Regions from separate parts of the Homo sapiens genome. Here region 1 is linked to region 2. Evidence: fine-mapped expression QTL. A gene starts in region 2. The other region holds a variant in brackets. All regions are shown on one strand. Distances are between the middles of the regions.

Evidence for each region. PIP is the estimated chance that this variant, and not a neighbour inherited with it, causes the effect.
Region 1: its variant is fine-mapped to the expression of KRT74 in whole blood (TOPMed, PIP above 0.99).

What each region holds. Positions count from the first base shown.
Region 1 is chr12:52,591,905-52,606,172 of GRCh38, reverse strand. It overlaps KRT72 (keratin 72), which reads left to right and starts at 4,710. Exons shown (of 9, transcript NM_080747.3): 1 at 4,710-5,146; 2 at 7,061-7,275; 3 at 13,221-13,281; 4 at 13,682-13,777. The coding sequence starts at 4,721. The variant G/T (reference allele first, on the strand shown) is at 5,321.
Region 2 is chr12:52,570,280-52,584,932 of GRCh38, reverse strand. KRT74 (keratin 74) reads left to right here and starts at 11,090. Exons shown (of 9, transcript NM_175053.4): 1 at 11,090-11,626; 2 at 12,266-12,480; 3 at 12,929-12,989; 4 at 13,479-13,574; 5 at 14,100-14,264. The coding sequence starts at 11,156. RefSeq lists an enhancer at 12,496-12,665.

The sequences.
Region 1 (14,268 bases), 21 kb before region 2:
GGGGATACTGTGATGAAGAAATCTTGTCCATGTCCCTAATGGAGGCATAACCATAAAACACCTAACTGTAACATGGTGTCTCACATCATGAGGTATCAGCAACAATAGAAGACACAGAGGCAGCACAGAGGAGAGACAGGAACTTCAGGGAGGTCAGGGAAAGCTCTCAGAGGAGGCAATATGTGTAGAGGTTTTAGAGGATGGATAGGAATTTACTAGGTGGACAAGAGGAGGAAGTGGGCTTTGTAGCCAGAGGCACCAACATGGTACAAATAGGTGACTGTTGCTGGAGTGTGAAGTGTAAGGATGGAGGAGGCTCAGTAGGTGGAGAAGGAGGGTGCAGTGGCATCCAGAGTTGGTGAGGCAGGCAGCAGATGTGTAAGAGAGGCCCCTTCATGTATGCTAAGAGCTGGGATTTTATCCTGTAGAGCTTGAGAAAGAAGTTAACACCTTGGGTGTCAGATGGACCCTGAGTCAGAAGGACTTTGCCACTTACTAATTGTGTAACTTAGGCAAGATACTTCTGCTCCATAAGCCTCAGTTTTCTCATCTGTACAAAGGGGTTAATAATTGGAGTTACCTCATAGAGTTGTCATGAGAATTAAATTTAATGAAATAATGTACGAGAATTATTTAGTTCTTCTAGCACATAGTAAGTGCTCCATAAATGGCTGCCCCTATTGTTTTTAGGTATAGACTATTCTGTCAGGAAACTGAAGTGAGAAGGGAAGTAGAGAATGTCTGATAGTGATCAGAAGATTGTTTGAGAACATGAACTTAGGATACAGAGCATTCGCTATTATGTAAGATTTCTGCCATCTAACTTCTAAGCTTGGGTTCATATAATGAATGCTGACAGCCTCAAGAGACAAACCCTGACATCTGAGCAGCTTAACTTAACACAGCAAAGATTTATTTCTCACTCACTGTCCAAGGCAGGTTAGGGCAGCTGCCCTGTGTGGTTCTCCCTTTGGGTGTCTCAGGGACCCAGGCTCTTCTGCCTTGTAGCCCTGCCACATGGGACACATGAACTCCAAGGTCACCAGACAGGGGAAAAGAGATGGAGGAGGCACATGACCTGCTTACTGCCCTACCCCAGAAATGACACACTTCAATGCCACTCATGTTTCATTGGCCAGTGCTAGTCACATGACCCCAAGCCCCACCAGAACTGCAAAGGAGGCTGGGAAGTGAGAGGAGAGCAAGGTTATTTGGTGAGCTCTGGCAGTCTGTGGCTCACCTTGCTCAGTCTAGATACCCAATGCTCATCACCAGGCTGAGAATTCTCTCTCCCTTGGCCAGTGCAGGGATGATGCTGGCCATGCTCTCAGGAGTCCATGCAAACTACCTCCCTTTGGTTTGGACAATACAACCCTGGCCATATTGCCATAAACTAGATAAGCCTGCCTATTATATTTAGGTCTCCTTCATGTTTTTAGGGAGATATTGTAAGTCTCTTCAGATTTGGGAAATTTAAGTCAATTTAATGGTGAAGTGGAGATATCTTGTTTAGTGTTTCTTAAAGTATATTCCTTGAAACTCTGGCCCCATAAAGTATCTGGCCAAAGAGAGGGCTCAATGGCCTAAAAAGTGGTTTGGAAAACACTGAGTTTTGTGGGGGTTTTTTGTGTGTGACAAGAACAGTACTTTATTTCCGATTCTAGAATCAACTTCCCTCTCCTTTCATCTTTAGTTTTTTTTTTTTTTGAAAAATATAACTTATTTATAAAAGCATTATATGCTCATATTAGAAAATTCAGAAATATTAAAAAATAGAAAAAAAACCCACTGACACTGCCCCATTCACAAGTTCACCTCTCAGCCATCAGGTGTGAAAAACATTAAGTTTTGTATTACCCTTTTGTGCAACAGAAAGTATCATGCATTTTTCTGTTATTATGGTTTAATACCATCCATCTGTCCATCCATTCATCCATCTACCCACCCACCCATCTATATATCCATTTATTTGTTTACTATTCATTAGAGCAGTTTTAGGTTTACGGCAAAATAGAGTGGAAGGTACTTGGGTTTCCCATTTACCCCTTACCCCCACACATGCATAGCCTCCTTCCTTATCAACATCTCCCACCATAGGGGTACATTTGTTACAACTGATGAACTTACACTTATGCAGCATTATCACCTCAAGTCCCTGGTTTACACTGGTGTTCACTGGGAAGTCTGTGGGTTTGGACAAATGTATAATGACATGTAGTCATCATTACAGTACTGTACAGAATAGTTCACTGCCCTAAAATTGCTCTAGCACTAAGCATGTTAATGGGCCTAGAAAGTCCTGCAATAAGATGCCTGCTTCATTTTTTTTTAAACCAAGCACAGAATCCATTCCCATATCTTTTTTTCCCATGATACCTATTAACTTCCCAAGAAGTAGTGTTACAGGGCAAGGAGACCCAGTTTAACCAGCAATGCATTTTCAATTCTCAGCCTAGAGTGGTTTCATCCGTCTTTTGTAGTAAAGATCTGATTTCTAAGGGCAATGTTCCTTGTCTGGTTTACTAATCCAGGGGTTGCTTTAACCCAAGAACTAATGACAGAGGTGGTCACCAAGGCCTGAGGTGACACCGTAAGCTGCTGTCAGAGGCAGAGGCAATGAGAACCCCTCCTCCCAGGCCTCAACCCCCTTTGATCTGCTGACATCCCCACACATCTGAGGCCTTTGAAATCTGCATGTGTCACTTGTGTCTCCTCATGATCTGTAATAAAGGTGATTCAGGGGTTGAGGAATTCCTTATTCATCCAGCCAGTCAACCCCTCATAGGAAGATGAGAAAAGGTCATCTTACAGTTCCCTAACCCTGGGCAGAAGAGCCCTGGTCCCAGGATATCTCAACTCCTTAGAAAATTTCTAGGAAGAAAAAAAAAATTATTTCAAAGACACCCTTTGTCAGTCAATCCTACGTAAAAATTCTCCTCTTTCAGTGTAATCCATTCCTTGCTTTTCTATTCTCAATGGCTGGAATAAATAAATTCATTTTTGTGCTTGTGGAAAAAAAACTGGCTAAAATTACGGGGTAGAGGGAAAATCTCATGTAATAATAAAAAACATAACCTTGATCTTCTTGAAGGGTCTGCTGTCACCCAGCCACACTGACACTGCCCTTCTCCTCTTCAGAGGGAAGGGACTACAGCCCCTCCTCTGAGGCAGCACTGAGAGCCCACCCTCTCTCCCACCTAGGACACCCAGATGCCGTTATCTGTTCATCTGTGATCGGTGCCATCTCCAGCGCTTAACAATGCCCTCACAACTTTGTTCCCCGTGGAGTAAACGCTTCGGCTGTTATTATGTCCTGTCATTGGCCCAGTGGAGGCTATGTCAGCCAATTACCCCCAGGTACCATTTAACCAACCCATGAGGTCCCCAAGGGGAACCCAGCCTTCAGGGTATCACTGAAGGTGCAGTAACAAGCCTTGCCCTAAGCACTCTGCTGTTTCACAATCATCCTAAATGTCCCTTTGGCCAAGGCCTGGGCTGAGCACTGGGGGAGCAGAGGAGGGAAGGGTGAATCCAGGGGGCCCTGTCAATCTGATAGAGGAAATGGAACACACACCCAGGACTCTGGCAGCTTAAGAAATAAGAGCAATGAAATAATCCCACCTGCATGCCAGAGGAACAGGAGAGCTGTTGCTAAGAGAGGAGGAGACTTGAAGGCAGCTTAAGTTTGAGAAAAGGAAATCGGGTTAGGTGGAAGAAGGAGCCTCTGTAGCTTAAAGGGAATGAAGTTCTAGAATCTAGTTCTTGGTTTTAGATCTGAAGAGTCTTGACCTCTTCCTAATAACTGATCACATTTTGATGCTGAATCAGAAATGACTGGGTGGCAAATGACCTGAGCAGAGGTTTGCTGGATGGGATAAATAAGCCTCTTCTGCTATTAAAAGAAAACAAAAATGAAAACAACCGAAAGCCTTAGGAAACACCATCTGCTAAACCATGCCTGAGTCTTCCTGTACCACCTCCCCAGGCCTTCTTCCCTCCCTCCCAGATAGCATGGTCCCCATTCTTAGTCCAGAAATGCTTAGTGGAGAAATCTTTTCGCTCTGGTCCAAAGTCAACCCTCAACACTTGTGACCAGAGGTCTCTGTGTCCTGCCTTCTCCAACAGACTGAGAGGTCTCTGCAGACGGGGCCAAAATCTCCTCCTTCTGAACTTCCTTCTTGCACAAGGGACAGAGCTGTCCTCATCCAGAAGCCTGGGAGGCAGGAGGAGGACAGGCTAAGGATGATTTTCTGCGATAGTCTTGACTCTATTCATGGCCTTCTGAAGCAGAAGCAGCCTGGACTTCTGCTTCACACACCTCCGTCTCCCCAGACACACACCCAGAGGGTCAGCCCCACTGGAAGTTTCCAGGGGTGATCTTGGGAGTGATAACCCCAGTAATTGGAGGCCAGCAGGTGGAGATAAGGTCGCTAAGCCATGATAATGCAGGAGGTGAGCCAAGTAAATGCTGGGTTCTGGGTCACTTTACAGGGATTCATGGGGAGTTCACGGTGGAACAGACAAAAATCTCGGTGAGTGCATGGTAATTTCCTACATGAAGAACCCAAGAGGCCTCAAGGGATCTAAAAGGTGTTGTCGACATACAAATTAGGCTGACTCCAGCCAGCCAGGCTATTTAAGGGGCGAGCTGGGCCGAGAACGCAGCGGCTGTTTGCGCCCCTTCTGCCTCCCGCGCGGCCAGCACCGGTACTTGCGAGCCATGAGCCGCCAACTGACCCATTTCCCCCGCGGGGAGCGCCTGGGCTTCAGCGGTTGCTCCGCGGTCCTCTCTGGCGGGATCGGCAGCAGCTCCGCCTCATTCCGGGCCCGGGTCAAGGGCTCGGCCTCCTTTGGCAGCAAGAGCCTCTCCTGCCTTGGGGGCAGCCGAAGCCTGGCGCTCAGCGCTGCTGCACGGCGGGGCGGCGGCCGCCTGGGCGGCTTCGTGGGCACCGCCTTCGGCAGCGCCGGGCTGGGGCCCAAGTGTCCCTCCGTGTGCCCACCCGGGGGCATCCCTCAGGTCACCGTCAACAAGAGCCTCCTGGCCCCGCTCAACGTGGAGATGGACCCCGAGATCCAGAGGGTGCGCGCCCAGGAGCGGGAGCAGATCAAGGCGCTAAACAACAAGTTCGCCTCCTTCATCGACAAGGTGAGTCCTCGGGCATTGGCCTGTCCCTGCGTTGGGCGCATGTGCACAGTGGTGCTGGCTCTGCCACTGGCGAGCTGTGTGGGAGCGTGGGCGGGTCATAACCTCTCCGAGCCTCCCTTTTCCATTTGTAAAATGGGCACAATAATGGGTCTTACTCCAGTGGGTTGCGATGAG[G/T]CTTAATTGGGATGTTTACGAAGTGCTCAGAACAGTGCCTGGCACATACTTCCAATAAACAGGATGTATTAGCCCATTTTCATGCTGCTGATAAAGACATACCCGAGACTGGGAAAAAAAAAAAGAGGTTTCATTGGACTTACAGTTCTCCATGGCTGGGGAGGTCTCAGAATCATAACGGGAGGCCAAAGTCACGTCTTATATGGCGGCGGCCAGAGAAAAATGAGGCAGAAGCAAAAACGGAAACCCCTGATAAACGCATCAGATCTCGTGATACTTATTCACTATTAGGAGAATAGCAGGAGAAAGACCGGCCCCTATGATTCATTTACCTCCCCCCTGGGTCCCTCCCACAACACGTGGGAATTCTGGGAGACTTAATTCAAGTTGAGATTTGGGTGGGGACACAGCCAAAACGTATCAAGGACCTTCATTTCTTTCTTGCATGAGACAAGACTGTGAGAAGGGAGGGGTCAGGATGTCCAAGGAATGGGCACTTTGAGAGCTCCCAATATCAGAAGAGGAGATGGGACCCACATTCAGGGCAGGGCATTAGGAACAGAGGCCAAGAGACGTTGCAGGACATGGTGCTTGGTGCTTGAGGAGTGGGGTAAGTGTGTAGCCAGGAAGATGATAGAGGAGGTGAGAGAAAAGGGCCAGAAAACTGAAGGGTGAGGCTGAGGAGGCACTTGGAAAGAGTGCATGTAAAGTTACAGGTGTGTGCTGAGGGTGGGGCATCCAGAAATTGGGGTAATAGGGAAGTTGTCTCTGGAGCTTCTGAGGCAATGACCCCAGTGAGTGGAGAGGAGACAGGGAATGGACTTCTCTTGTCTCCACCTGGATGGAAGGTCTAGACGGTGAGTGATAAGGGGACAGCCTGATAACAATAGCTGACATTTATGGTGCCGTCCCAAGTGATTCTCATTTACAATCACAACCCATGATTCTGTTGTTGTTCTGCCTTGCAGATGAGGATATTAAGACATGGGAGGCTAAGAAATGAGCTCACCTTGGACAGGACAGTTGGTGGTGGACCGAGTGTCACCACTATGCTAGGGAAGAGGAATTGAGGTGGCGGGAGGGCACAGGTCTGCATGGAAGAAACACAGCAGCTATTCCAGAGGCCAGAGCATTCTCTTGCTCTTTTATGTCTGTTGTTCCCTAGCATGTTTCCTTCTGCCCCTCAAGCTGAAAGATAGGTGAGAAGAGGAATGCTGGTGTGTGGCAGAGGGCTTGGAGTTATTGAGTCTAAAAATGTGCACCCTGGTCAAGTATGAAGGAACTTTGTGAAGATGTGGTAACTTGCTGTGAACAACAAAGAAATGAACAAACCAAGTGCAATTTAGGCTACACAACAGGAGGAACGCTCTAAATGCCAGTGTGCTTTCCAATGTCACTCCCCAGTCCCTGTTTCTCCCCTGCTCCCCATTTCTCTTTACTCAGAAAACACCAGCATTTATAGCATGAGAAGCTACCTCTGTCTCATGAAAACTCACTGAGGCAGAGGCAGATGGTACCATTGCTTAAGCCCTCTTCCTGATTCCATATAGACCGGGTCCTATTTCTTGTCTTGGAGATCCAGGTGAGCATGTCCCTCGGCTGAATCCACCCCGGGATAAGCCTTGTTTTCTCCTACCCCCAGTCCCCCAGGATGGCTGCCTCTGGTTTTTGGGGCCCTTTCCCCACTCTTGAGAGGCAACAACATGGGGACTCTGGGCGATGACTGCCTTTGGGTTCCAGGTGCGGTTCCTGGAGCAGCAGAATCAGGTGCTAGAGACCAAGTGGAACCTCCTACAGCAGCTGGACTTGAACAACTGCAGGAAGAACCTGGAGCCCATTTATGAGGGCTACATCAGCAACCTGCAGAAGCAGCTGGAGATGCTGTCTGGGGACGGGGTGAGGCTGGATTCGGAGCTGAGGAACATGCAGGATTTGGTGGAGGACTACAAGAAGAGGTGAGTGAGTGGCAGGGAATATGGCCCTGGAGGATCTGATTTCAAATGAGGTTTTCGTTTGGAGATGGCATTTTTGCTTCTGAGATCCTTGCTGATACCGGGGGAGGGAGGAACATCCAGACAGAATGGAACTAGGAAAAGAATAGATCTACCTACACCGGTTCTCCAAACTGTCGAGGAAATGTGTGCTCAATTTCTAGCACTGAAAATGAAGGAATGGGGGAAAGAGAGTTGTATCAAAACCAGATGGACAACCCAAATGCCTTTGTAGTTCCTCCTGAGTGAAGTTTTCCATGGCAGTTCCCAGAATGTAAGACACCCCACCAATTCCAGGGCAAATTTTAAATCTAAAAAAAAGAATTTAAAAAACTTATTCCATGTTGAATCATGGCTGTGCTGCTGAATCCTGGCTTTAAAGAGAATAATTGAGAATGTTTGAGGATGATTGAGAATGAGATGGAACCAGAGGTTGTGTCCTCCTCCAAGTTGAGCTGAATATGAGACAGTAATAAATCAAGGCTCAGTGTGACCTGATATTTTGGAAGTTTGCTTCCAGATGCCAGGATTTCTAGGGACAGGTGGCTTCTTCCACAATTCAAGTGGCTGGAGGTCGTCAGAGCTGAGTTCTTTCTCTTGCTCCATATTCAATCTACCTGCCCATCCCTATTCTGAAATTCCTTCAAAGCAGAACCCTGGCCCAAGCCCTGCATGGAGAACCTAAGGAAGGAGGAGACACGGTCCCTGACCTCAGAGAGCACACAGATTGTGAGGACAGGCTTAAAGAACAGTTTCAGATAGCCACCAACAAGAAGAAACAAATATGGTGTGAACTGAGATAGGTGGAATTAAGATGGGAACTGGAGCCCAACTAGAGATGCAAGCAGGGTCTGGAAAGAACAGGGGGCTGCCAGACACAGTCCTGAAGTCCCACATGGAGGCGTCCAGGGGCAGTGCTATCTCTGGGCCTTTCAGACTGGAGTGGCTTTGTGCTCCTGAATCACCATGAACTAGTTGAGCAACCACAGATGAGTCTCTGTGTCCTCTGTGAACTTTAGTTTTAGTATTTATGAAAACTAAATACTGATACTTGCCTTGCTACCTAAAAGAGCTATTGAGAGGATAATGCCAGCCAGACAGTAGTGTATTAGCAGCTTTGAAAAGAATCCAAGTGCTACACAAATGTAAGGCATTGTTTTCCCTATGTCAGAAGGCTTGGATTTGAATCCTAGCTTCACTAGTAACTAGCATTTTGACCTTGGCCAAGTATTTTCATGTCTTTTGCCTCATCTATAAAATTGGAATAATAATAGAATCTACTTCATAGGGCTGTCGTGGGGATTAAATGAAATAATTTGTGCTAAGAATTTAGCACAGTGTTTAGCATGTAGTAAGGGGTACAATAAATATTAGCTGCATTTACTAGGAGTATTTTAAAACTGATTTTATCACCCATCTCTTCCACCTGTGGGTCCTCATGCCAGGTTTTTGCATCTCTCTTATGATATATCATAAGAAATGCTAATCATATGTCATTGTTGAATTAGAATTTTCAGTGCATTTGCCTTCCTGTTAAACTGTGAGTTTCTAGAAGATGCACAGTGTATATGTCTTAAGCATCATTGTATACGCTGAAGCTTTTCTCATAGGCTCTCTAAAATGATTTTAAAAAACTCTTCACAATTAAAACATTTCACAGTTAAAAAATTGAAACTACAACCTTTTAATCATAAGTGTAAGTAGTTTCAAAGGGTGTAATTTCAAACGTATTATGTGTGTTCCCATTTAAAATTGTAATAGCCACATCACTCATTGAGATGTACCCAATTGCATCCAGGTGCTGCAGCAGGTTAGCGCCCATCACCCTTCATCTAAAAAGCCAATGAATGGGCTCTGCTTTAAAAATCATAACTTTTACCTTGATCCTTTTCCTGTTTGGACTCCAATTTTCATCCCACTTTCCCCACATAATTTTGTTATAATATATTTTTATGCCTCTAAGTCTTTTATTGATCACCCTATCACAAAATATGCATGTATCTCGAAACCTTAGAAAGTTTACTTCTTGTGGCCTGTAATCCCAGCACTTCGGGAGGCTGAGGCACGTGGATCATTTGAGCTCAAGAGTTCGAGGCCAGCTGGCCAACATGGCGAAACCCTGTCTCTACAAAAAATATAAAAAATTAGCCGGGCATGGTGGCGTGCGTCTGTGTTCCCAGCTACTCAGAGGCTGAGGCATTAGAATGTCTTGAACCTGGGAGGCAGAGGTTGCAGTGAGCTGAGATCAAGCCACCGCACTCCAGTCTGGGTGACAGAGCAAGATTCTGTCTAAAAAAAAAAAAAGAAAGAAAAAAAGAAAGTTTACCTTTTGTGATCATAAGTTTTTAAATGTCAAAAGACTTATTTTGGGTTGAGTTATCCAAACAACGAAATGTATTGCTAATTTTGTTAAATAAGTATTAAACATAAAAAATGAAAAAAAATTGAAAATACTTTTCCTAATGAGTTGAATGGGGCAGATTTTTTTCTAAGTGGCTTAGTTATCCATGTATGAATATTGATTCTTATTGAGCTGAGATAGGATTCTAGTCCTGTGTGTTTTCCATTCTTAGGTGAGTGCTGGGAAACTTTAATTATAGAAGTAGATTTTAATGGAAGGAGTTTTGCAAGCCCAGTGTTATTTAGTTCTCGGAATGCCTTTCCAGTTTTTCTGCTTTTTCTTTCTTCCATAGTGCTTACTGTTTCTAACATGCTGCATGATTGACACAACTTATTTGTTGTGTTTGTTATTTGTCTCTCTCTGCTTCTTAAGGGCAGGGATATTTGTTTTGTTTTGTGCCTACAAAGTACCCCACACTCAACACATATTTTCTTAGGTGAATGATTACATGTCAAAATCACATAATGACTCACCATTAAAGATCATGTTTAACCATCTGTCAGCTGACAATTCAAATCCTTCTTTTTTTGAAAGCAAAAATTAAAAACCATCTGACTTGCAAAAAGAACTTGTTTCCTAGTCAGTAAAGTCATTATCTTCCAAATTTCTGGAAAATTTTTCAATAAGGCTTTACCAAGACTGATCAAATGGCCATGCTTATACAACTTATTCTGTCCTTTAGGAGCACCACGTTTAATCCAATGGATCAGAAAGAACTGGAAACATAAAACATTGTTAGTACTCAATACACCTATGCCAATTCTTTATCCTTAAAAAATAATGTGATTCTGCCTCATGTTTTTGTACACGAATACACACACTGGCACATTTTTGAAACTCTGGAGCTGCAGATTTACCTCATTCAATTTATATAGAAAATATCTGCCCTCTAGCTTCATTGGAAAAACCAATTTTCATATTCAAATCAGAGACATGAGTTGCTTTTCATCAGAAAAATCCTGACTTCATTTCTAAATTCAAGTAAAAGTAAGAATTTGTACTTTAGGGACTGTTATAAAATCCACTCAGAATAAACTAAGAAATATGTCTTGTATAATAGGTTATTGAAAGCATTCAAGATTAAAATGATTTAGATTTAATATAACTAATATAACTATTTATGTTATAAAACAAGAGAAATCAATATGTACTTTTTAATGATTTAACTTTTAATTATTCATTGTAATATATTTTTAAATAATAAGTTATTTTTAAGTTAATAATGCTATAAAACTTATTTTTCTTTTTAATGTGTGTATTGAACTCTGGTGTTTGGCCTCTAGAAGTAAATAATGTAAAATTATTTACAGCTAATGTCATTGATTTTGATAGCCCACTTGGTCAAAAGTTTTCTATGTATTTTAGGAAATAGATATAAACTACTAAAAATTAATTGGTCCGGCAACTACCATATGTCTTATTTTTATTAAGAGGGGGTAGACATTATTAATCTTTTTGTAAGATAATATAAAATAAAGATTGACTGTAATAGAAATAGCTGTTTCATGACATAATTTGATTAAAAGGTTTCAGTTATCTTTTGAATAAGACACAGAATCTGGGATAAATCATATAAACTGCTTTCTGTGTGTTTTATATAGCATAACTAGAAAGATCTGCAGCCTCAGAAAACATCCCAGTCACATTTGAAATAGCTCCCTTCACTACCCTGCACTGCTCAGCCATTCAACAGTGCTTTTTTTTTAAATTATTATACTTTAAGTTCTAGGGTACATTTGCACAACGTGCAGGTTTGCTACATATGTATACATGTGCTGTGTTGGTTTGCTGCACCCATTAACTCATCATTTATACTGGGTGTTTCTCCCAATGCTATCCCTCCCCCCACCCCACAACAGGCCTCGGTGTGTGGTGTTCCCCTTCCTGTGTCCAAGTGTTCTCATTGTTCAATTCCTACCTGTGAGTGAGAACATGCGGTGTTTGGTTTTCTGTCCTTGCAATAGTTGCTCAGAATGATGGTTTCCAGCTTCATCCATGTCCCTACAAAGGATATGAACTCATCCTTTTTTATGGCTGCATAGTATTCCATGGTGTAGATGTGCCGCATTTTCTTAATCCAGTCTATCACTGATGGACATTTGGGTTGATTCCAAGTCTTTGCTATTCTGAATAGTGCCACAAAAAACATATGTGTGCATGTGTCTTTATAGTAGCATGATTTATAATCCTTTGAGTATATACCCGGTAATGGGATGGCTGGGTCAAATGGTATTTCTAGTTCTAGATCCTTGAGGAATTGCCACACTCAACAGTGCTTTTTGAGGAGGGGGCTTCCAGGGACATGCCTTAGGAATGAGCGAAGAGCTGAAAAGGATTGTTTATGTTAAGTACATGAATAAAAAAGCTACTATCTAGCCTTAATTCTTTTTTTCAAAGTTTTACTATGGTAAAATACATATAACAAAATTTACCATCTTAACCATTTTTCAGTGGACGGTTCAGTGGTATCAAATACATTCATAATGTTGTGCAACCATCACCACTGTCCACCTCCAGAACACGCTTTCCATCTAGTGAAATGGGAACTGTATACCCACTTAACACTAATTCCTCATTTCTTCCCTCCCCTCTTCCTAGCCCCTGGCTCCCACCATTCTACTTTCTGTCTCTGACTTAGACTACTCTAAGTATCTCACATGAATGAGATCATTTGTCTTTTGGAATATTTGTCTTTTTTGTGATTGGCTTCTTTCACTTAGCAAAAGGTCCTCAAGGTTCATCCATGTCGTAGCATATTGTAGAATTTTTTTTCTTTCTAAGTCTGAATGATATCCCATTGTATGTATACACCACATTTTGCTTATCCATTTAGCATTAATTATTTCTTACCAATGCTCTATTTCGTTACCATACTCTCACAAATGTCCTGTAATGCATTCTTTGAGAATAATAAGGGATGGAAGAGGTAAGCTCTTTAAATAAAATGGTTAGTACTCTTACCTCCCCAATCAACAATATGTCTGTATTAAGAACATCCCAGTCCTAACCACATTTCTGTGTCTTAGACCTTGCTTCTGTTTCTGCTTCACCTGGAACAGAAATATGTATAAGAAATAGGTATAACATACAGTTTGAAAGTGAGAATGGTGCTTTTGTTTGGTGCCTAGGAGGTTTTTGCACCCTGAGCCATTGCACAGTATTAAGATGCCATGTGCCAGAAGGGAGTGTCTTTTCACCTCTGCTATAATGTGGGAGGGGCTAATTGTGACAGGGAGAGGGACAGTAGAGTCTGCATGACATCTCAACCACAGGTGCTCTCTGAGGCAGGTAGTTTTAAGACAGAATGCACAGGCACAAAGGAGCTGGAAATTGATTCCTTTAACTATGTCCTTGCCTGCATCCTCTTAAGCAAGGTTATGTGTGCCCCAGGGGTATGGGAATCCCAGTTTGAAGACCCCCACCCTGCAGCTCTCAGCACAGAGGTGGTCACTAACTGTTCAGTGAGTGTTTGCAGAACTGAATTACCTCATTGTCTTGCCCCATGCAGGTATGAGGTGGAGATTAACAGACGCACAGCTGCTGAGAATGAGTTTGTGGTGCTCAAGAAGGTAAGAGGGGTGCCAGGTGGGCTGGAAGAAGCCTAGACCTGACCACCTGGCACAATGATGCTTGTAGGGTGAGGAAAGGGGCCCTGTAGGTCACTCAGTCCCTTGGGCAGGGGTGACTGGCACTCTAACTTCCCAGCCCCTCCCTCCAAGTCCCTTGCCTGGGATGCATGCTGTTTCTAGAATTTGCCAGTCTAAAATCTGGGCATTTTACTGCACTACTGGTGTAGCCATTGCACTGCACGTTAGTTGGTTTACTCTCAGGGACTGAAGGGGACTCTCAGGGAGCCCCCCATGAAGCACAGGGTGAAGGGAGAGGAAAGAGCAAGGCTTCCTGTGGCAGGGAGGGAGGGATGGGCAGGGGAGGCCCTCTCAGGGCGGCTTGACTATCATGTGCTCCCAGGACGTGGATGCTGCTTACATGAATAAGGTTGAGCTCCAGGCCAAGGTGGACTCCTTGACAGATGAGATTAAATTCTTCAAGTGCCTTTATGAAGGGGTAAGGACTTGGCTGACCTCTCTTGTGAGATCTGCTCCTTTAACAAGAGGTTTCTGGCCCCTGGCTGGAAGGTGGTGTGGACCAAGAATTGGGAGGGAGAAAGCTTTCAACCTGGTGCCCCTGACATTCACCAAGGCCCTACTGGGTGCTGAACAATGAGCTAGGTTTTGAGGAGTCCGTGAAAGAGAAGAAGTGATTCTTGCCCTCCAGGAGTTCACAGCTTGGCAGGAAAACACCACGTAGCTGAGCTTTCAGAGAGCAGAGGAAGGAATGGTGGGTTCTGCCTGGGCCATCAGTGAAGGTTCTTGGAGAGAGAGGAGAAAGAGGACGATTTCAGTGGGTGCTGAGGGGGGCAGAAAAATAGAAGGTCCAGGAGCCTGTCCTGTGCTAAAGCATGAGGAATGAAGAAGGGCGCAGAGGCCTGGGGAAGGGACTGGTGCTAGTGACTCCCTAGGGGACTTCACATGCTAGGTAAAGAGTTCAGACTTGGT
Region 2 (14,653 bases):
AATATGAAGTCAAGCAGTGTTAACTACTATGAAGAAAAATTCAGTGGAGTAAGAAGCTGAGAGATTCAAGGATGCTCTTTTAGCTCTGCGTGTGTGTGTATGTGTATGTGTGTGTATGTTTGTGTGTGTATGTGTGTGTTTCTGCAAGAATGTTTGTTTCTCAGAGTCAGTTAGCACAGTTGATTTGAAAAAAACCCTTAATGCGAGACCATCTTTCAAGTGCAAACCTCGTTTGAGGATGGCATTCAGAGTGCCCGAGATCCTGTCTCCCCCGTGTCGTTTCCCACCTTATTCTCCAGCCTTTCCCCATGCAGGCCAGACTTTTCACACCTGAGGGCCTTTGCACATATCATTTTCTCAACCTCAGATGTCCATTACCCGTGATGGACAGCCTGCGCACCTGTGTGGCCTGGCTGAGACTCCACCACCCACATTTCTGTGGTGCCTGGTCCCTCCAGGTGGACCCATCCATCTTCAAGCATTACATGAGAAGGATCAATACAGCTGTGGCCCAACACCTCCCTACCCCACACCCCCATTCTACAGGCAGGCAAACCGAGTCCCAGATGGCTGAGTGACCTGTCCATGTTCACACCACTGGTGAGCAGCCGGGGCTGGACCAGTGGCTTGTACACTCACAGCCCTGTCCTGAGCCTGTGTTAAAGCCGGCACTCTATTTTTCTGGTGTCATATCAGCTGCTCACATGTCTGTCCCTCACTCCATGCCCTACATCCCCTTGTTCCAGGGTCCGGCTTGCAGTCAGCACTTTTACCATGGGAATGCATGCCTTAGTTTAGCCCACCTTCCCTGGGAAAAAGAGCTGGATATACACACAACATACCCATGTCTCAATTGTCTGGTATGCAAGTGATATGACATATTTGTGTTAATAAATTTGTGTCTTATATGCATTTGTGTGCAGGCAGTCACTCAAACTGGGACACTTTTGATCTAAATAAATACTAAGGTGGATCCTTGGACAACTGGCAAAGCCAGGACTGTCAGATAAATGGTCCCCTTGGGCCTAGCATAGTGGCAGAAGAGTCATATACCTAGCTTTGAATCCTAGCTCTTCTAATTGCCAGTAGTGGCCTAGTGCAAGATCCTGCCCTTGTAAAAGAAGATAAATACAAGCTGGCCATTATGAAGTGCTTTCTGTTGCCAGAAACTGTTCTCAGCACTCATTCTGGTAAGCACTTTATGGCTGGTAACTCAATTAATTCTCCCAACAATCTGACATGTATTATTTTTATAAGATGCGATTATTATAATGTCCATTTAACTTGTGAGGATATTGAAGCTCAGAGGAGTTAAGTAACTAACCAAATGTCACCTGGTTAGTAAATGGGAGGATCTGAATTCCAGTCTGATTCTGGAGTCTATGCTCCTGGCTTCGACACCTCCTTACCTTTCAAAGAACTCACCTTAGAGGAGATCAGAGAATAGGAAAAGAGATAAGGGGAGTAAAACAGTGCCTGGAACACAGTCTGACACCTGTAGATGCTCACTGTTATTACTAGTATTTTTAAAGCATACGTCTGTGTTTGCTGGCTGTGGGCTGGTTCATGTCTGAGAGGTGTGGACCAACAGCAGGACTTTGCCCAGAGACCTGGCCGAGATGGGCTAAGTGAAAGGTGGAGGGCACTGGGTCCATTCACTAAAATACATTCCTATCTGTTCACTGGCTGTTCATTTCCAAGCAGGGGAAAAACCCTCGGTGCCTCTATTTTGTGCACACACTGCCCTCTGCCATTGGTCCTGGATACTGCACTTTCTACCCCTGTGACTCTGGAGGAAAGACTTCCCTACAGCAGAGAGGGCGTGGGATGACCCTAGACAGGCTCTGCGCCCCTCGCGGAGCTGCCAGTGGGAGGGGATGCTGTTTCACTCCCTGGCATGCCCAGGCTGGCCCCAGCCTCTGTGTTGCCTGGGTCTGACTCCTGTCTCCTCTTCCTCTCCTCTCTGGCCTCTCCTCTTACAGGAAGGAGGAGGGGGCAGGGGCTGATGCTGCCTGCTGCCTGAACCTCCACACCTCTTATTAGAGAACCTGAGGCCTTCAGACAGCTTTTCCTGAAAATCTTGGTGCTGATCCAGAGGTCCTTGGAGTGAGGGCCCCCATGACTCAGCTGAGACCCCCTCTCCTAAGCCCTGCCTGCACAGTGTGCAAACCCCTCCCTCCTCTGAGAACTCTTTCTTTCTCAGGCAGTAGATGAGCCAGGCATGGAGGCACTGGCAAGGCACAGCCAGGGGGCTCCATAGGAAGAAAGGCCTGAGAGAGGAACACAATCTGGAAAGGCTTCCTGGAGGAGGCGGTAACAGGGATGTGAATTGTTGGAGACAGGGAGCTTGTTAAAGACTGCTTAGGTCCCATTTGGCAGCTGCTCTGGGGTTTGAGCCGCCCTTTGCCAGCTGTTTCCAATCTCCATCTCAGGGGCTCTGCCACTTCTGCCACCTATAGAGTGGCAACTACACAAAGGACAATTGTTCTGCACTGCCCCTCAGTTCTTACATTCACATTTAGCAAAGCTTCCAGGAGCACCAGAGATGTTGAGGGTCCCTCCTCTCCTGCAAACCAGCTGCCATTGGCTTGTCCATCCCTCCTCCCCGGTAAGTCGTCCACGCTGCATCCCCGTTTGGATGCAGGCCCCTCTTAGAGGGCTTATCCTCGAAATCCCTCCTTCTTGCTTCCAATTCGTCCATCTCCAGGAGAGATTCCAGATTCTTCTTCCTGGAACTCCAGATGCAGCTCAAGTTCTAGATTAAAGCTGCTCCGAGCTCAGGAACTGAACCATAGCGTGGTGGATATAGGACTGAAAGGGACCTTAGAAGTCCAGTGTGGAGGTACACACATTTTGCAGTCGGCCAGGTGTGGATCTGAATCCTTTTGTTGATTTGTTTCTTTTCCCAGTTATAACTGCAATGTGGGCAACTCAGTTTCTCTGCTCAATTTCTCTTTCCTCACTTGTAATGTGGGAAAAACAAGAGTATTTACCTGACAGGTTGGTGTGAGGATGAAATGAGTTAAAATGTGCAAAAAGCTTAGCACAGTGACTAGTGCAAAGCAAGCCTCGTCGAACCTGAGGCACACCTGCCAGGCTAGCTTCTGGCTCCGTTCCAGTCCCATTACATTCTCCTCCAGCCTCCCAGCCCACATCCATTTCCAGAAGGTTCTCTCTTCCTGGAAGGGCTGCTGGTTCCTCTGAGCCTTCTCCTTGGCCCCCTGTTAAAACATGCAGCCCCCACCCTTGCTCCACGCTGCCCCTGTTCCTCTTCCCTGAAATAGGAGCCACCAGGACCCAGGACCTGCTTTCACCGGTTCTCACTTCCAGACGGGTTTCCCCATGATGTGAGTCATTCTCCCCAACTCTTGGATCTGCAGACTCCTGGCTTATTTCATAACCTGCCTCCTGAACCCACAGCTGTGTGTCCAACCTGATAGCCCTGCATAAGACACCACTTGCCTCAGCGGGGGCCCATGACAATGGGAAGATGGAGACTTGGTCTCCTGGTGTCAACATCTCCTGCCTCCTTTTCTGTAGGAGAGGGGGATAGAACTTTCCAAAGGGGCTGGCTGTGGTCTTGGCTCCAGATGGAGGAGCTCACTCTCTGACCCCGAGGCTCAGGTGCCAGCGTCAAGCCTGCCCTAGGCCCCACGGACCCAAGCCTCTAATTCCATGGCAGGTCTGCATCGGTGGGGTGGTGCTGAGGGTCCCTCACCCCACAGCAGTGAGAGGTTCCCTGTATCCAGCAGGCCAACCATCCCTTCCACCCGCAGGGTGGGGCTGCATGGATGTGTCTCCCATGGAGCTCTGAAAGGCTCATTTCAGCCCCCTGCCCCAGCCTCGGGGTTCATCCTCCATTCTCTCTGTTTTTAGCCCTTCCCTCAGCAGCAACTTCCCCTCCTCATTGACCCAGCCTTCCCTAGCTCCTTTCTCTAAAGTCTCCACTTCTTCTATTTCTTCTTGATGTGCTACTTTTATGTTTCTTCCTCCCAATTTCCACATTGCCTATGGTGGTCCAGGCCCCTAGTGCTTCTGCCCTGCCTGGTATCTCTTCCCTTCTCCTGTCCCTTCTTAACACCTTTCCCCAGGGCCCAGCAGGCTCAGATATGATGTGGGCCCAGGGAGGGAAGCTGGTCATTCCTTCCACACTGGAGGCAGTTGCCACCCCAGGCCTGACCCACCACTCCAGCACTCCCCAGGGACGGTGCAGGGCTGGGCTTCTCCTTCCTGTTTGGATGGATTGTATGATGCTCTGATGATGGGAGATAGAGAGCATGTCATTAGTGATGATGTGGCTTAATTACAGCCCAATGCACAGCCTGCTTGTTTGCTTTGCAAATGGGCAGAGGAAGAGGTGGATCAAGCATCAAACTTCACAGTGAAGATCAAAAGATTAAGGCATTTCCCCCAGCCTCCCTGTTGTCTTTCAAAAATGAATCCTGTAATAAAGGGGGTTGGGGTGTCAGACAATATAAATTTCTTCCTGAAGTGGCTGGAGGGGAGGTGGAGGGGGTCTGAGGTAAGGAGATGGATTAAATAGTGCCCAGATGGGGGCCTAGTGGAATTTTAAAATGAACAAATGGAAGAAATGTGTCCTTCCCAGGGCAAGACAGTGCTTGTCTTCACATACCTATGTGCACTGGAGCTGAGAAAAGTTCCCTGTGATGACTAGGTAGGTGGTGGGTAGAGTCGTAAAGAGTTCAAAGAGCTTTTCTTTAAAAAAAAAAAAAAAAAGAGGAGAGAAAGAGAACTAAAGAGTGTTTGATCTACAGTAAGTGGCTAGGGGCCTGTTCCATCATAAAAACCTTAGGAGCCCGAGCAGGGAGAGAACCAAGAATGGAGGAGCTTGGAGAGACAATCCAGGAGGTGCTGAAGACAAAAGGATACTCAGGCTGGAACAATGAACAGTAGTCCGCGGATCCCCAAGCCAGAGAAAAGCTAGGCGGGGCAGAGTTCCTGGTGGACAAGCCCTTGGGGGTTCCAGTGATGAGGGAGCTGGGAGACCACCACTTTTCCCCAGGGATCAGAGAGGAAAGACCCTGGGAACTGGCAGACAGATCTCAGGCAGCCCTGGAGAAGGAGGCAAGTACTCGGGGAAGCCAGGAGGCTCCCATGACCCTTTGTGCAGGAGGACAGCTCTGACCAGAGGCTCCAACTCATCTGTGGAACGTGAGCCCATCCCCAAGACTTAGGCAAGCTACCAGGGCAGCCCTGGAGGGGCGTGCAGGTTGTGCTGAGCACTAAGTCTCAGTGCGGGGGAAGTAGAGGCTGAAATCCAGCCATGCACCCTGGGAAAGGGCTGCGTCTGCCCAGAGGAAGGGGTGCCTTTTTCTCATGATTGGCATAAAGGCACCATATGGCCCTGCAACCACTTGGTTAAACTGCTCTGATGTTTCTCTCTCCAGGTGGGAAGGGTGGAGCATGCCCCTCCTGAGCTGGGCTGCAGCAGAGAGGAGGGAGACACCCATGCTGGGAAGACGTGGGGAAGGTCCTAGACTCAGAGAAGGGTGTCTGCAGAGATGCAGCTCCCCCACGTTTACCCCGAGAGGTGCAGGTAGAAAGTTCCATAAGACTAGCAGTGATAAGGAAACTGCCAGGTTTCAGGTCACTAAACATCCTCTGCTAAGTGTTTAATAAATAGAGGCTTACTGCACAATATGCTCTACACTAATATGACACCAAGAAATGGGAATTTTGACCATGCTGACTGCCTGTCTGGGATTTCACTCAGCACAGTGCCTGTAGCAGAATAGGCATTGAGTGAGAGGGATTGGAATTAAAAAAAAATTGATGCCATCCAGCCACCTGCTTTCTTCTCATAATCTGAGGAATTCATTTAACAAGAGTGTGTGTGAGGGGAAAAGGGGGTCTAGTAGGGATGGAGACAGACCAGGGATTGCTTGAGTGTTTAAGTTTTACAAGCTTGGTAGACGTGACTTCAGTGATCCTTAGGGTCCACTGGAGAGTCGGGTACTCAGAGCTCTCCAATATGGTGAATGACGTTCTGGTTTTCAAGGGTCCAGTTTTTTCCAGAACAGTGCAGAACTTTCCAGAACTTCTGTAGCACTGAAAGTCGGACATTCTGGAAAACCTCTCAGCCCTAGGAAAACTGGGATAGTTGAGTACTCTACAAAATAGTATCTAGATAATCCCTATCATCTTGCCTGGGGCGCTTTTCCTATTCCTCTGTGCCTAGAGTTTCCTCTTCCCCCACTCACCAACACAGAGCTTTCTGCTTCACTCTCCACACCCACTCCAACTAGGCCCCAAGCCATGTCTACAGCCTGGGATTGCAGCAGTGGGTTCTGCCCATGTCTCTGGTGCATATCCCATCTGTCATCGGACTCCTGGCACAGAAAATTTAATGTCAGGAAAGTGAAGGGTTTTGGGAGACACATGGGGAAAAAGCAGATGAACTCTATTGTCTGGGCTAGCTAACTTTGGACTAGCATGGAAAAACAGGCTCCTTTCAAACCGGTTCAGACAGGCAGAGGGTATTAGGTTTCTGCACTTAGCTTATTTTCAAAGGGAAATCAGAGAACTCAGTTTCAGGTCCTTTCCAGTGCTAAGGTGCTGTGGTTTGTCCCCAGGTCTTGTCCCCACAAAGTTAGCTCAAGAATCCTTCAAGCTTCTTTTTTTCTTTCTCTCTCTTTTTTTTTTTTTTTTTTTTTTTTGAGATGGAGCTTCGCTCTTGTGCCCCAGGCTGGAGTGCAATGGCACAACCTCAGCTCACTGCAACCGCTGCCTCCTGGGTTCACACGATTCTCCTGCCTCAGCCTCCCAAGTAGCTGGGATTACAGGCAGTGCCACCACTCCCAGCTAATTTTTGTATTTTTATTAGAGATGGGGTTTCACCATGTTGGCCAGGCTGGTCTGGAATTCCTGGCCTCAAGTGATCTGCCCACCTCGGCCACCCAAAGTGCTGGGATTACAGGTGTGAGCCACCATGCCTGGCCTTCTTTCTCTTTTCTTTAATGACCTTGATCTACAGAATTTGGGTCCTTCAACTGTTGTTCTGTGCCCAGGAGCAGTCAAAGGCCAAAGGGCTAGAGAAAAATGACATTCACTATTCATCTTCAAACTACAGACATGATGGTTACGGCCATTGGGATTTTTCACGGGGCTGCTTTTTATTTCCCTCTGGTGAGGTGCTCTGCAGAAGGGGATTCTTATCCTCCAGGAAGATGATGAGAGATTATGGCCCAATTGACTCAGCTCCCTTGGGTTCCCTGGGGTACCTGTGTCTTCCACAGCCCTCCTCTTGCAACACAGAGCCTATTCCTTAACGGAAAGCATTGGCCCTGTGAAACTGCTTCCCCTCAGGACCCTCGCATGATGCCACACTGTCTACAGGGAGAAGGGAACTGTCTAGGCCTGCGCCGCCATCTCTGCCTCCATCTCTGCTTCCCAAGTCGAGCCTTCCTTTATAATCCGCCTGGGCCTCTCGGTGTCTCAGGGATGCCCCATGCACCTGCCCAATCTGGCCGACCTTCCAGTTAGCAACCCCTACCTCAGAGAGCCCAACCTCTCTTTTATTCTATTTTTCCATTTCTTTTTAATTCAAGGATGGAGAAGATTTAGGGTAAGCAAAAAGTAGATTTTCATGTACTTTTTAAATTCTTTTTTTTTTAGATCAGAATTTCAATGAACAGCTTGTCTGAGTTACTTGTTCAAGCACATAATCCAATATAGGCATGTAGAATTAAAACTACAGCAATAACAACAGCAAAACAACTTTTGTATGTTTATATTGTTTGTCCTCCAGTTCAATTAACTTCCTAAAAGAGAAAGAGAGTGTCTCAGACATCTCCCCCTGTCTAGCATAGAGCTGAACACACAGTAGATGCCCAGTTTTATATGCATTTAATGAAATAATCTCTTCAGGACTTGGGACACTCATTAGTCCAATGAACTCAAAGACCAGGGCGTGGTGTGTGATTACTAATTAAAGGGTATCCGAAACAGTGAAGGCTGGAACTCTAGGGATCTGACTGCATAGGCCAAAGGCAATTCCCCTGCAATTAAGCTCCCTAGGAACCAATTAGGAGGATTGCTTCTGTGTGGCCACAATCACAACACTGTTGTCAGGAAATTCTACTCTGCCTCTACCTTTTCCTTCTCCGTCACAGCCACTCTGCCACCATCATTACCACCGCTGTCAGCAACCCTTACTGGCCAGCCTCCAGCACAGGGCCCAGCCCACAGGGGCACCCTTTGTAATGAATACAAAGGGTGCCAGGACCCCTAGCCTTAGTCCTGGCCCTCCCCAGCCCATCACTTCTGAGTGTGGATGGACCCCATTCATTCTGCTGCATTTCCCTGGGCACCTGGATATCTGCCTTTTGTTTACCCTAAGTCTTCTCCAGCCTCAAAGATCTAGCCTCATGCCTTTTCTGCTTTGTAAATGCCTTTTCGTTGAAGTTCCTATCAGATTGGGGCTCATAGTCAGCCAGGCAGTGGTGGCGCAAAGACTCAGCTAGCCAGAACTATGATTATTTCCCCTCGGAGCCGGGCAATGAAGGGCCAGCTGCTGGTGATTCTAGAATAAAACAGCCGCTCATGAAAGCAAGTCTCTTCCTTCCCCCTGCCCATCCTTGCTGTGGCTGATTTTCTCTCTGAACCTAGAGTGATGTCTTATCTTGAGCAGCTACCCTTTGCAAGCCCCTAGTTCAGCAACAACCTCCCCTTCTCCTCATGTCACACTTGAATCAAAAACAACAGAAACACAAGCACAAGGTCCCCAGCCCACAGCTGCCATGCCTGCCACATGTACCACAATGTCTTTGCATCTTTGCCACTAACTTCCATCTCTATCACATAACACGATGGTCAGGAACATGCACTTTGAAACCAGACGCACTTGAATTCCGGCCCAGCTCTGACTTACTAGTTGAGTGAGATGGGTAAGTTCCTCTGTTTCTTCAACTGTAAATGAAGTTAGTTAAAGAGGGTTAAGTGAGACATCCCATGTAGACATCCCATGCCTGGCACATGTGAAGTGAAGAATAAGTGTTAACACTTTCTGTTACTACCATCACTATTATACAATGATGTTACTACCACTATTGCTACTACTGCCATAAGGAATACTTCCAGCCCCACTACCTCTGAGCCACTACTCTGAGCCAGCACCTGTAGTGGGCGTTGTTGGGAATATAAGCCTGGCTTCTGGAGATCCCCAAAAACCCTAATCAAGATGAGCCATTCCTCAGTGCACCTCTGATTCGTGGTTCATAATGCTTTTCTGTCATTCCAGAGCTTTGGCTCTACTTTAAGTTCTTTGTGTAGATTCCTCTCATTGGTCTGCAGGCTTCTTGGTGGCTGGGGCCCTAGGACAGTCACCCCCAGGTTAAGGAACTCACGCCATTTTTTGTCTTGCACACTCCAGCACAGGAGGGCGGCAAACCCAGCATCTGGCGGCACCCCTGCTGCTGCCCTTGCAACCTGACTTAGAAAACCACAAGCAACCCCTTCGATTACATGCTCCTGTGCTGTAGGGCTAGGCCCTGCCGGGAAAGCCCCCCGAGACAGGGTCCCTGGGGAAGGACCTTCCACCGTTACCTCAGGGGCTGAGAGGAAAACACCCTGTGAAGGGGAAATTCTTCCGGGGCAGCTTCCAGGCCTAAGCTCCACGCTCCCTGCCCAGGTCAGCTTCTCCTTTTCCCTCCCCAGCAGTGGGAGCAGTTGTCTTCTGCCCTCGGCTGGATCCAAACAAGCCAAGTGTTCTCAGTTTAGTTATAGGAAGTGGTCAGAGTCTTGCATGAGGGCAGCTGCCAGATACCTAGCTTTGAAATAATTTTTTTTGTTTTTTGGAGACAGAGTCTTGCTCTGTTGCCCAGGCTGGAGTGCAGTGGCACAATCTAGGCTCACTGCAACCTCTGCCTCCCAGGTTCAAGTGATTCTTCTACTTCAGTCTTTTGAGTAGCTGCGACTACAGGCATGCACCACTGCGCTCGGCTGATTTTTGTATTTTTAGTAGAGGCGGGGTTTCACCATGTTAGCCAGGCTGGACTCAAACTCCTGACCTCAGGCAATCTGCCCTCCTTGGCCTCCCAAAGTGCTGGGATTACAGGTGTGAGCCACCATGCCCAGCCCTGAAATAATTTTTTAACATTGCACTGTACCCACACTACCTGAGCTATAAAGCAGTGATACTTCCTGTTTGAAAATTGAGTGCTCCCTGAAGTTGCCAGGAAACTGGCAGAACAGCCCACCCTGAACCTGGGAGTGAAACTCAGGGGGTCCTGTTCCTTGGTGACTTCAGCCATAGGGTGTTTCCCCAGGGAGTGCAGGGGCTAATATCCCAGCTCCTGCCTGACTTCCTAGAGTAGGACAAATAATCTTATCCAGGAGAGAAAATCCAACTGGAGGAAATGCAGCTGACTGGAAAGGTTCTCATGGTTGTAAGGCAATGTCAAGGTCACCACCACCCAGGCCCTGCCCAACACAGAAGGCCCTAGACAATATCCCTGCTAGGGGGGCATGCAGATGCTGCAGAGTCATTCCTCTTCCTTCCTGGGGTCCACTTCACTGCTAGACAGCTGTGGTCCTTAGCATGGCCCAAGGACGGACCCTGGAGCTTCTTACCCAGATCCAGATCTTTGAGGACATCTTTCCAAGAAGAATCATCTTTCCATGTCTTCTTTTCCCTGAGGTAAAAATTCCAGCTTCCACACAAGACCCTATAATAGAGAGATGGTTTCTTTTGGGAAGAAACCTGGGGTTTTTCAGGTGAGTCTACTCTGGGGAAAGCCAGGCATTTCCCCTGCTCCTTGCTGATGGTTAAGCAAGAAGGAGGTAGCACTGGAAAAATAAAGCTAGGAGATCTCTTCAGGGGATAACTCTTCAGGTCCTTAATTAGGGAGCACAGATAAACTCCAAATTAGACCACTCCACTCTGCAAGGGCAGCATATTCCACTTGCTATCAGAAGAGCTTTGTTGCTGCAAAGGGCTTGGAGATCTCTGTTCTACAAATTGCCCATGGCCCCTGGCCCATCAGCAGGGGAAAGGAGATAGTGGAGAGACGCCCTTTTCCGGTGTCCTGGGCTCAACAGGGATAAAAGGAGGCAGCACTCTGGGTGCCCCATCAGTGTGTTCTCTACCCCTTGGAGACTGCTTTTCTCCAGCTCTGTCAACTCAACCTTTCCCACCATGAGTCGGCAACTGAACATCAAGTCCAGTGGTGACAAGGGCAACTTCAGTGTGCATTCGGCAGTGGTGCCAAGGAAGGCTGTGGGTAGCCTGGCTTCTTACTGTGCAGCTGGCAGAGGGGCTGGCGCTGGCTTTGGCAGTCGGAGCCTCTATAGCCTTGGAGGGAATCGGCGTATTTCTTTCAATGTGGCTGGTGGCGGCGTTCGGGCTGGAGGTTACGGCTTCAGGCCTGGCTCTGGGTATGGAGGGGGCCGGGCCAGTGGCTTTGCTGGCAGTATGTTTGGCAGTGTGGCCCTGGGGCCTGCATGTTTGTCTGTGTGCCCACCTGGGGGCATCCACCAGGTCACTGTCAACAAGAGCCTCTTGGCCCCCCTCAACGTGGAGCTGGACCCTGAGATCCAGAAGGTGCGCGCCCAGGAGCGGGAACAGATCAAGGTGCTGAACGACAAGTTCGCCTCCTTCATTGACAAGGTGGGTCTCATAGGAGGAGGATGAGGCCGCACCCTGAGGCCTGAGCAGTTTTCCTGCTGCCTGGGAATGGACTGCACACTGTGGCTGGAAAGGTGCAGCTGGGCCTCAGGAAGGGCTTCCTCACCATTAGGGAAGGAGAGTAGGTCTGTGAGCCACGGAGGACAAAGGAATACATGAATATATCGGCTTCTTTGGCGATTTTGCAGGGAAGGATGGGAAGCTGGGTAAAGAGCAGCCCTTCCTTGACAAAAAAGTGATGAGTTTCTTGAGGACAGCTGGATCTTCCAAGAACATGAAAGGCTAATAGAATCCAGCAGTGTTCAGAGGGAAGGGCTCATGGTACAGGAAGAGACACTTAGTTGAGACATAAGGAAGGACATCTCCTGGGACCAGGGCCGAGCAATAGAAGAAAGCTGTGGAAACTCCTTGAGTGAGTTCTCAGTGATGCCTTGTCCAGAAGGCTAGGAAATGAGCACTTGTAAAGGATCTAGTTTGTGTGGAATGGCAAGGGTGGAGAGTCAAGACATGAGCAAAAATGACTACAACAATCTATGGCAAACCTGGGGAGTCAATGGTGTGTGTCCAGGGGGCATGACTGCACCCATTGTGGTTCCAGGTGTCTGTTGATTTGGGTTCCAGGTACGCTTCCTAGAGCAGCAGAACCAGGTTCTAGAAACCAAGTGGGAGCTGCTGCAGCAGCTGGACCTGAACAACTGCAAGAAGAACCTGGAGCCCATCCTTGAGGGCTACATCAGCAACCTGCGGAAGCAGCTGGAGACACTGTCTGGGGACAGGGTGAGGCTGGACTCGGAGCTGAGAAGCATGAGGGATCTGGTGGAGGACTATAAGAAGAGGTGAGCAGGCTCCACCCGAGGGTCACAGACCATGTTTCCCGTGCCTCTGGGCTCACCTGATCTCTGTGCCATTATTTTTTAGGAGATGGGGGAGTATGCACCAGGGTCAGGAGCTCACATCCCTTTCTCTGGCTAGGGGGAAGGGCCTATCCTCTTTGATGATAACTTCCTGCCTAGTTGATAGGAAGCGGTTCCTGTGCTCCTTGACCCACTGAAATGTTCAGTTGCTGGTGTCGGGAGCCCAATAGGCACCTGGGTGTTTTCCTAACATGCAAAAACTAGGAGACAAGTGAAGCAACTCAGGGATATCTTACTCCTGTCACTAGCCTCTTACTGCTCACCCCAGAGACCCTGCAGGGACCCTGTATCCCAAACATTTGCCTGGCCAGCAGGAAGAGAAAGTTCCTTGGCTAAGGGGGCTAAGGCCATCTACTCTCCCTGCTGGCAGATATGAAGTGGAGATTAACCGGCGCACGACAGCAGAGAATGAGTTTGTGGTGCTTAAGAAGGTAAGAGAGGGAGGAGCCTCCTTATTAGGGTCTCTCGCACCCCCATCTTAACAACTCTGCTCAGGACTTCAGCCCAGGAGGCTGGGGAGGGGGCTGGTGCCTGGTGAGGGGGCTGGTGCCTGGTGAGGGTGGAGTCATAGTCCTGGCCTCCAGTGAGTTGGAGAGGAAAGACACACACTCAGGAAATGGACAGAGACAGACAGAATTCTGGTCTGGGAACTGTGAAACTCGGGTCCAGCTCAACCTTGCTGTGTGACCTGAGGAAACCTACTACCTCTCTGGGCTTTGTTTTCTCCAGGCATAACAGAGCTGCCCCATCCTCCTTTCCCTATTCCCAAAGCTTCAGGCAGCCTGAGAAGAAATTGATATTGAGTGAGCTTTCCTTTGTGGGTAGAAAATAGAAAATCAGGTGGCTTTGAGGCAGGAGTTGGGCAGGGCAGCTGTGGGATGAGGGTTGCATCCCCCAATGACTCTGGGGCCTCTTGGCAGGATGCAGATGCAGCCTACGCAGTCAAGGTGGAGCTTCAGGCCAAAGTGGACTCACTGGACAAAGAAATCAAGTTCCTCAAGTGTCTGTATGATGCAGTAAGGACACTCCTGTCCCCCCACCCTCACCCTGCCTCCTTCCCGACTCTTCCAGGGAGATACCAAAAGGAGAGATTTAGGATCAACAAAATGAAAGATGTTTTGGTAGAAAGGTACAAAACCCTGCACCAGGAGACCATGGAAGTGCAGGATGCTGGTCCTTGGAGGCCATACATACAGGAGGAAATTGATCTTGATACAATAGTGGACTTGCCCACGGGCAGGAAAAGATAACCCAGTGAGGTCTTACAAAGCACAGAGCCTTGGATTCTGTGAAATTGTGGAAAATGCATTATTCACCCGTCTGCATGTGCCAGCGGGCATCTGCCATATGCAGGGGTTCCTGCTGCTGTTAGCTGCTCTCCCTCAGCTCTGCAGACACATCCCAGAGGGCACTTCTTCCCCCTACTTTGTCCCCGTGGATCCTAGCAGCCTATTGGGCCAGGGACCATGGGCCCAGAAGACTGATGGGGCAGAAGAGGGAAGCCAGGGGGTTGCTGAATCTGTCTTCCTCTCTCAATGCAGGAGATCGCTCAGATCCAGACTCACGCCAGTGAGACCTCTGTCATCCTGTCCATGGACAACAACCGGGACCTGGACCTTGACAGCATCATCGCTGAGGTCCGCATGCATTATGAGGAGATCGCCCTGAAGAGCAAGGCCGAGGCCGAGGCCCTGTACCAGACCAAGGTGGTCACCGAATGGGTCTCCTCCCACAGCAGCCCTTCGCTTCCTGGGAGGGGTCACCTGCACAGTGAATGTGAGGAATACTTTTGTGGGCATGCTGAATGAAAGAAAGGTTCCAACCAAGGCTTCAAGGAAAAAAGGAATTCTTAGCAGAGCTTGTTATCAAAGATAAATCATGAAACTGGTATGGATTGAATATATGCAACAGAGAGGATCCCTCACTTCTTTCCTCCATCCACGAACTGCCTGTTCCTCTCTGTTGCAGGTGAAAGAAGTGAGGTGGTAAAACAAACACACTTATAGGAATGGGGGCATGTTGCCACAGGGCAGAGGGAGAATCACAGACTTGCGGGAGTGTAGCCATGGGTGAATTTGGTGGGGGGCGAGTGAGA